Linked DNA regions of Homo sapiens. The protein of the gene in region 2 interacts with the protein of the main gene of each other region in a pairwise test. Each region holds a gene or a part of one and is shown on either strand. Other genes may lie near its edges. The genes, in order: FGL1 and LAG3.

Region 1 (3,931 bases), on a different chromosome or scaffold from region 2:
GGCGACTCTAAGATTAGGGATGGCCTGCGGCTGCATCCGACTTCCTGGAGCTACTGAAGTCTGAACTCTGGTCTCATGAAAAATTCAAGGTTGATACATTTATAAAATTCTTTTTGTTCTTGCAGTTTTTTCAAGGGGGAACATGGCAAAGGTGTTCAGTTTCATCCTTGTTACCACCGCTCTGACAATGGGCAGGGAAATTTCGGTAAGCTTCTTGGGAAAACTATTGTCATATTTATAATGCCTGCTTTTATCTGAATTTTCTTTCATTTTGCATTAAACCTATAGTGACTTGTCATTGAAAAAACTTAACTATGTGGGAAAAGCAAAGAGGCTGGTAGAAATACTGGACACATAGTAAAGCAGCACTTTAAAGCGCTTTACATTTTTGCAGGGGAGGCCGAGATGGGTGGATCACAAGGTCAGGAGTTCGCAACCAGCCTGGCCAATATGGTGAAACCCCATCTTTACTAAAAAAAATACAAAAAATTAGCCGGGCGTGATGGCACGCATCTGTAGTCCTAGCTACTCGTGAGGCTGAGGCAGGAGAATCCCTTGAACCCAGGAGGCGGAGATTGCAGTGAACTGAGATCATGCCACTTCACTCCAGCCTGGGCGACAGAGTGAGACTCCATCTCAAAAAAAAAAAAAGTGCTTTACATTTTTTTAAATAAAAAGTATTCATAATAAATAAGTAATTTTTAAAAATTCACTGGAGTTATTTGGTTGGAATATTAGAAATTTGAAACTGTCCATAGTAATTAAAATTAACCTTGAGCTTTTCAATATTGAAAAGTGTAAAACTAACCAGATTATTTGAAAGTAATTACATCGAACTTGTGTTGTCCTTCATTTGTGAATAAAAAAGACAAAACATTCATTCAAAGTTCTTGGAGAAAGAAAACTCCTAGGTTTTAAATAAGCTTACTAAATATGCGTATGCAATCTCATAAAGATTGGGCATACTTGACCTGTGATGTCTTCAATTATTTTAAAATTGCATAGTGCACTATGTTTAACAATATCACAACCGATCCCCCACTGTTGTAAAACAACTCAGGACCCAGACACCATAAAATGTTCTTGCTGTTCATTTTTTAGCCTATGTGACTCAAGGTGCTAAGCAAATAACTATCTCAGAAGGGATAAATCTGAGTGTTAGGGATAGAGTAACAAGAACAAATAAGAAGTAATCCTAGAGAGGCCTGGTGCAGTGGCTCACGCCTGTAATCCCAGCACTTTGAGGGGCCGAGGTGGGTGGATCGCTTGAAGCCAGAAGTTTGAGACCAGACTGGGCAACATGGCAAAACCCCATCTCTACTAAAAATACAAAAATTAGCTGGGTGTTATGGCACACAACCTGTATAGTCCCAGCTACTTGCCAGGATGAAGCACAAGAATCGCTTGAACCAGAGAGGCAGAGGTTGCAGGGAGCCGAGATCGCACCACTGCACTCCAGCCTGGGCAACAGAGCAAGACTCTGTTGAAAGAAAGAGAGAGAGAGAGAGAAGGAATCATCCTAGAAAAATGGCTGGGAGAGGTTCTGTGACTTGGACCTAGGGATGGGAAGAAAGGAAAGAAAGAAAAGAAAAGAAGGAAGGGAGGGAGGGAGGGAAGGAGAAAGAAAGGAAAAGAACAAAAGAAAAGAAAAAGAAGAGGAGAAAGAAATCATTTTAGAAAAATGGCTGGGAGAGGTTCTGTGACTTGGACCTAGGGATGGGAAGAAAGGAAAGAAAAGAAAGGAAGGAAGGAAGGGAGGGAAGGAGGGAAGGAGAAAGAGAGGAAAAGAACAAAAGAAAAGAAAAAGAAAAGAGGAGAAAGAAATCATCCTAGAAAAGATATCTGGGAGAGGTTCTGAGAAAGGAAACGTAAGGGAAGAGGAAGGGAAAGGGGAAGGGGAAGGAAAAGGGAGAAACCATCCTAGAAAAATGGCTGGGAGAGGTTCCATGACTTGGACCTAGAGATGGGAGGGAGGGGAGATGTACTACATATATATATATATAAAAAATATATATATATTATAGACTATATAAATATAAATGTATTATATATGCATATGTATTTGATATAATATATACTATATAAATCCATTATGTAATTTTATATATACGTATATTATGTATAAATATAATATATTATATAAAGTAGACTATAATATAATAAATACAATTATATTACATTATATTATATATAAATATATTTAATATATTATATATTATTTATATTTATATATTATATAATATCTATTCATTTATATTCATATATATTCATATTATATATTTTGTAATATATATTATATATTATTATTATATTGTATATTATTTTATATATTATATATTATTATTATATTATATATTATTTAATATATTATATATTATTATATGTTATTTAATATATTATATATGATATATATGATATATTATTTAATATATTATATATGATATATATTATATATTATTTAATATATTATATATGATATATATTATATATTATTTAATATATTATATATGATATATATTATATATTATTTAATATATTATATATGATATATATTATATATTATTTAATATATTATATATGATATATATTATTTAATATATTACATATGATATATATTATATATTTAATATATTACATATGATATATATTATATATTTAATATATTACATATGATATATATTATATATTTAATATATTACATATGATATATATTATATATTTAATATATTATATATGATATATATTATATATTATTTAATATATTATATATGAGATATATTATATATTATTTAATATATTATATATGAGATATATTATATATTATTTAATATATTATATATGATATATATTATATATTATTTAATATATTATATATGATATATTATATATTGTTTAATATATTATATACTATATATTATATATTGTTTAATATATTATATATTATATATATTATATATTATTTATATGCATATATAATATATATAATATATAATATACATTAAATATACATATTTAAAAGTATTTATACCAGACAGCCATTCAAAAACCTCATTTATTATGGAGATTTACATGCCAACAGTACAATTAACTTCTATAAACCACATTACTGTTTAGAAAACACATAAGCAATGTCATATAGAGATTGAGAGCACAGTCCTTGAACTGAATTTGAATCCCACCTCCGCTTACCCACTGGGCATCAAGACTGAGCCCTTTCCTACCGCATGGAATTGTTATGAGGATCAAAGGAGACAACTATAAAGCTCCTAGCATAGCGATTCCAATTATTTTATATTATTTGATCTTTTGAGTCCAGGAGTTTTCGCATAAGCCATAATTTCCAATTCTTCAAATAGTAGGCAGTATTAGAACTTTTCAAGCCACTTTCTCTTTGGAATAATATTCTGAAATGGGAACTGGAGACAAAATGGAATCACTGATTTATCCAAATGTTTAAAAAGCACTTGTTTTCCATGAAAATGAGGTGCATACTCATCTCATCTCACCTGTTTTGCAGGCGCTCGAGGACTGTGCCCAGGAGCAGATGCGGCTCAGAGCCCAGGTGCGCCTGCTTGAGACCCGGGTCAAACAGCAACAGGTCAAGATCAAGCAGCTTTTGCAGGAGAATGAAGTCCAGTTCCTTGATAAAGGAGATGAGAATACTGTCATTGATCTTGGAAGCAAGAGGCAGTATGCAGGTCAGAATGGACTTTTCTTAAGTGTTTCTATAACTTACATTATGCACCCATGTACAGTGATGGTGCTAGTTATTTCAGGCTTTTCCTATTTCAGTAACAAGCAATATGAAGCATTATATCTATTGTAAATGTCTTCTTTCACACTTTACTTTTTTTTTTTTTTTTGAGGCGGAGTCTTGCTCTGTCGCCCAGGCAGGAGTGCAGTGGTGCAATTTTGGCTCACTGCAAGCTCC
Region 2 (3,767 bases):
CTGGAAGACTTGACAAGGCAGTCCTCTGCGCGCCGCGCGTGTGTGTGTGTGTGTGTGTGTGTGCGTGTGCGCGCGCGCGTGTGTGTGCATGTGTGTGTGCACGTGCGCGCGAGCATATGTGCGCATCTGCTGCAGCCGGAGGGCCAAGGACAAGTGCTGAAGTGCAGCTGAGTGTGGGGTGGGGTGGACCCAAAGGACAAAAATATCAAGGAAACCAGGGCAGCCAGCGCACTGTGGGTGGAAGGTGGGTGGAAGGACGGAGGAGAGAGCTGCGGAGGCAAGGGGCAAGGGCTTTTTCGGGGGAGCTTCAGAGAAATGATTACCCAGGAGAGAGAAAGAGAGAGTGAGCGCAAGAGAGAGAGAGACCAAGAAAGAAACACGAAGCAGCCAGAAACAGAAAAGGGGAAGGTGAGGGAGGCTGGCTGGGGAAAGTAGGTTAGGAGGCTAGGGTGGGAGAAGGGAGCCCTCAGAGGCTGGGGAGAGACGGGAACCTTCACTTGGACAAGAAAGAGCCAGACTCAGGCTTGCTGCTGACAGGGAGTTTATTTGGACTGGGCTGCTGAGATCTGCTGGCTGCCTCAGCTCCAGGTCAGAGCTGCTCCGGCTCGGGCTCGGGCTCGGGCTCCGGTTCCGGCTCCGGCTCCGGCTCCGGTTCTTGCTCCAGCTCCTCTATCTTGCTCTGAGCCTGCGGAGGGTGAATCCCTTGCTCTAAGGCAGAAAATCGTCTTGGTCGCCACTGTGAGAAGAGATGGAGAGAGAGACGGAGGGCGGAAGGAGGAGAAGGATGAAGGGAAGCGGATGAGGAGGGACACTGAGTCCCTCTATTTTTTCTCAGCGCCCCTGCCCTCCCCATCTGGTCCTGGCTTTCTCCCAACCCCCCTTCCAGCCTACCCAGGCACAAGCCATCCCTGGAGTGAGAGGCTTATGAAGAAGGGGGGCTCTGAGGGCAAGTTCAGGGTCCCATTTGGTCACCTTCCTGAGGAAGGGGTGCCATCAGCACTCTGAGGATGGAAGAGCGGGAGCTGCTGGGGGGCGGGGTTGCCATGTCCCTGGCTCACCTGTCTTCTCCAAAGGTGAAAGCCAAAGGCTCCAGTCACCAAAAGGAGCAGAGAAAGGACACCAAGGATGAGAAACAGCAGGAGGTGGCCTGCTGGGAGGGCACCTGGGGCTCTCCCAGAGCGTTGGGCACCTATGGAGAAAGTACAGGATGAGGCATAGGGTCAGGACTAGAAAGGACACTTTGTCATTCTCTCAGACTTTACAGATGCAATGAGATCCAGAGAGTTTAAGGGACTTGTCCCAGGGTCATTCAGCTGATCAGTGGCGGAAACGGGTCAACCCTAGGCAAAAGCCAGAGATCAGGTCCCTGACTGGAAAGAAAAGCGCTGGGATGGGGGTGGCAGGGGCTGTTCTGGAAGGAGGATAAAGATTATTGCTGTGGCGTTTGGGTCCTGGCATTCTGGGGCCTCGGACCTGGGCTAGACAGCTCTGTGAAGTACACTGCTGCTCCAAGAAGCCTCTCCCCCTGGTACAGCTGGCATTGCCAAGGCTGGGAAAGGAGCTGGGCCTCCTGTGCCTCCAGCCAAGGTCCTGAGAAACTCCTCTGGGATGGGGTGTCCAGAGAGCTCCACACAAAGCGTTCTTGTCCAGATACTGGAGTCACCTCACAAAGCAGCTTCCCCAGGGATCCAGGTGACCCAAAGGATTTGGGAGTCACTGAAAAGAGTAGAAGGAAGAGATCTTTTGGGATTCTGCCCCCCTTACGTGATATCACAGGTTGAACCCCAAGTCTCAATCACCCTGCACTCACTTGGGTTCTGGCCAGGGGAGGTTGGGGAAGGACATCATGGGTCATGGCCACGTTCATCTTTTTCTTTCTATTTATTTTTTTATTAAATTGTATACAGATGCGTTTTCACCATGTTGCCCAGGCTAGTCTGGAATTCCTGGACTCAAGTGCTCCTCTCGTCTCAGCCTTTCAAAGTGCTGGGATTACAGGTGTGAGCCATCATGCCCTGCCGGCCACATTTATCTTATTCAGACAATGCTCTAGTCAGCTCCCTCCCCTGCTCAAAACATTTCCAGGCTCCCTACTGCCTTCACACTCAAACTGGCCCTGGCAGACCACAGAATAAATACTATTACAGATTCTTTTACATTACTTTCTACTCAAATGCTCAGAACCCTCAAAATCAGTCAGATGAGCTGACCCCCATCTACTTCACAATTTTGGAACTTCCATGATGCGGCTCACATCAGTGTCCCCTGCCTTGTGGTGCCCCCTGAATGAACATCATCCCCCTTTCTGAAGGTATAGAGAACAGGGAACTGACCCATTCATCTAGAGACAGAGCATTCTCCAAGTTGTAAAGTGAGAGATGGGTGGGTGGGAGGAGACAAAGGGTGAAGGGCATCTGAGTAGTGTCCTGGAGAGTGATTTGGTGATGCAGACACCTGAGTTTAGACCCAGAGTCTGGCACTTCCCAGCTGTTTTGAGAAAGTCTTCGGGGTAACAGTATCTCTCTCATTGAGCCGTCTACATAAAACAGTTGACCTTCAAGAGGGCATTGGACAGAAAGAACTGGTGGACTTTGATGACTGATGGGATGTAGAGAGGAGGAGGCCAGGTTTCGAGGTGGATGGATACCAGTGGATTACTGACAGGCTGAGTCAGCAAGGGGATTGGTGGGAGAAAAAGCTGGGGTTCAGGGTAAGGCGGCTGAGAGGTGGTATAACATCTAGTTAGAGGTATCCAGAAAGCAAGTGAAAACTCAGGATTGGCCTTCAGGAGATGTATTATCCATTAGCATGTTCACGTATTCATTCAATCTCTATACATTATTAAGCACCTGCCGTGGGGTGCTACTACTGAGTGGCCGCAGGTGCGTGCTGCAGACATGGCTAATCTGTCATGGCCGATAGTTATCAACCAGTCAACACATACTCTCTGAGTATTCTTTTTTCTGTGTTTGTTTTATACTGTCTTGGAAAACCCTTGCTCAGTAAATATTTGCTGACCAAGGGACGGATTTATTCACTCCTCCCAAATCCAGGCCACTTCCTGCAACTCTAACCCAAGCCCTGGCTGCAAAGTAGACAAGGATTCTAGAAATATATTCTACCTCTTTCGAACCATTCAGAATTTTTGTCACCTTTCCTTCTAACTTCCCAGACCCTCCCGCCAATTGAGAGCAGGGGAGTCCCATAGAGAACGGTGGAACTTTTATCTTGTGACTCAAGAGGAGATTTTCAGTTTCGTTTCTTTATTATGGGGGTGAGAAAAGTGGGGGCCGAGATGGGCAGGCTCTGGAACTTGTGCCCAGTGGCCTGGCATCACAGGGTGGGTTTGCCTAGTCTTTGCCCTGCCAGCCCTTCCTCCCTGTCCTTTCTACCCTGGGAGGGCAGCTACTCCTTTCCCACCTGAGGCTGACCTGTGATGATTGCCAATGTGACAGTGGCATTGAGCTGCTGTTCCTGCAGATGGATATGGCAGGTGTAGGTCCCAGCCTGGGCCTGGCTCACATCCTCTAGTCGAAGGGTAAAGTCGCCATTGTCTCCAGTCACCAGGAGGTCAGGGCCTCCCCCAGGAGGAGTCCACTTGGCAGTGAGGAAAGACCGGGTCCCCACACCAGCAGGCAGGCGGCAGGGCAGCCCCACCCTGGAACCTGCTCCAGCGTACACTGTCAAGGGAGTTGGGGGCTCCAGACCTGAAGAGAAAAGAAAACCCAAAGTTAAAGCTGGGTGCTGCAGTGGGGAGGGAGTGCTGG

Evidence for each region.
Region 1: the proteins of LAG3 (region 2) and FGL1 interact in binary tests that used the Homo sapiens proteins (3 or more experiments, as listed by UniProt).

Annotation. Positions count from the first base shown.
Region 1 is NC_000008.11:17,881,766-17,885,696, reverse strand, and holds part of FGL1 (fibrinogen-like protein 1 precursor), read left to right. Parts: intron 1-125; 5' UTR 126-142; coding exon 143-205; intron 206-3,517; coding exon 3,518-3,698; intron 3,699-3,931. UniProt on the Homo sapiens protein: Immune suppressive molecule that inhibits antigen-specific T-cell activation by acting as a major ligand of LAG3. Responsible for LAG3 T-cell inhibitory function. Binds LAG3 independently from MHC class II (MHC-II).
Region 2 is NC_000012.12:6,775,213-6,778,979, reverse strand, and holds the end of LAG3 (lymphocyte activation gene 3 protein isoform 1 precursor), read right to left. Parts: intron 3,708-3,767; coding exon 3,432-3,707; intron 1,717-3,431; coding exon 1,474-1,716; intron 1,190-1,473; coding exon 1,059-1,189; coding exon of another isoform or gene 973-1,058; intron 737-972; coding exon 590-736; 3' UTR 525-589; downstream 1-524. UniProt on the Homo sapiens protein: Lymphocyte activation gene 3 protein: Inhibitory receptor on antigen activated T-cells. Delivers inhibitory signals upon binding to ligands, such as FGL1. FGL1 constitutes a major ligand of LAG3 and is responsible for LAG3 T-cell inhibitory function.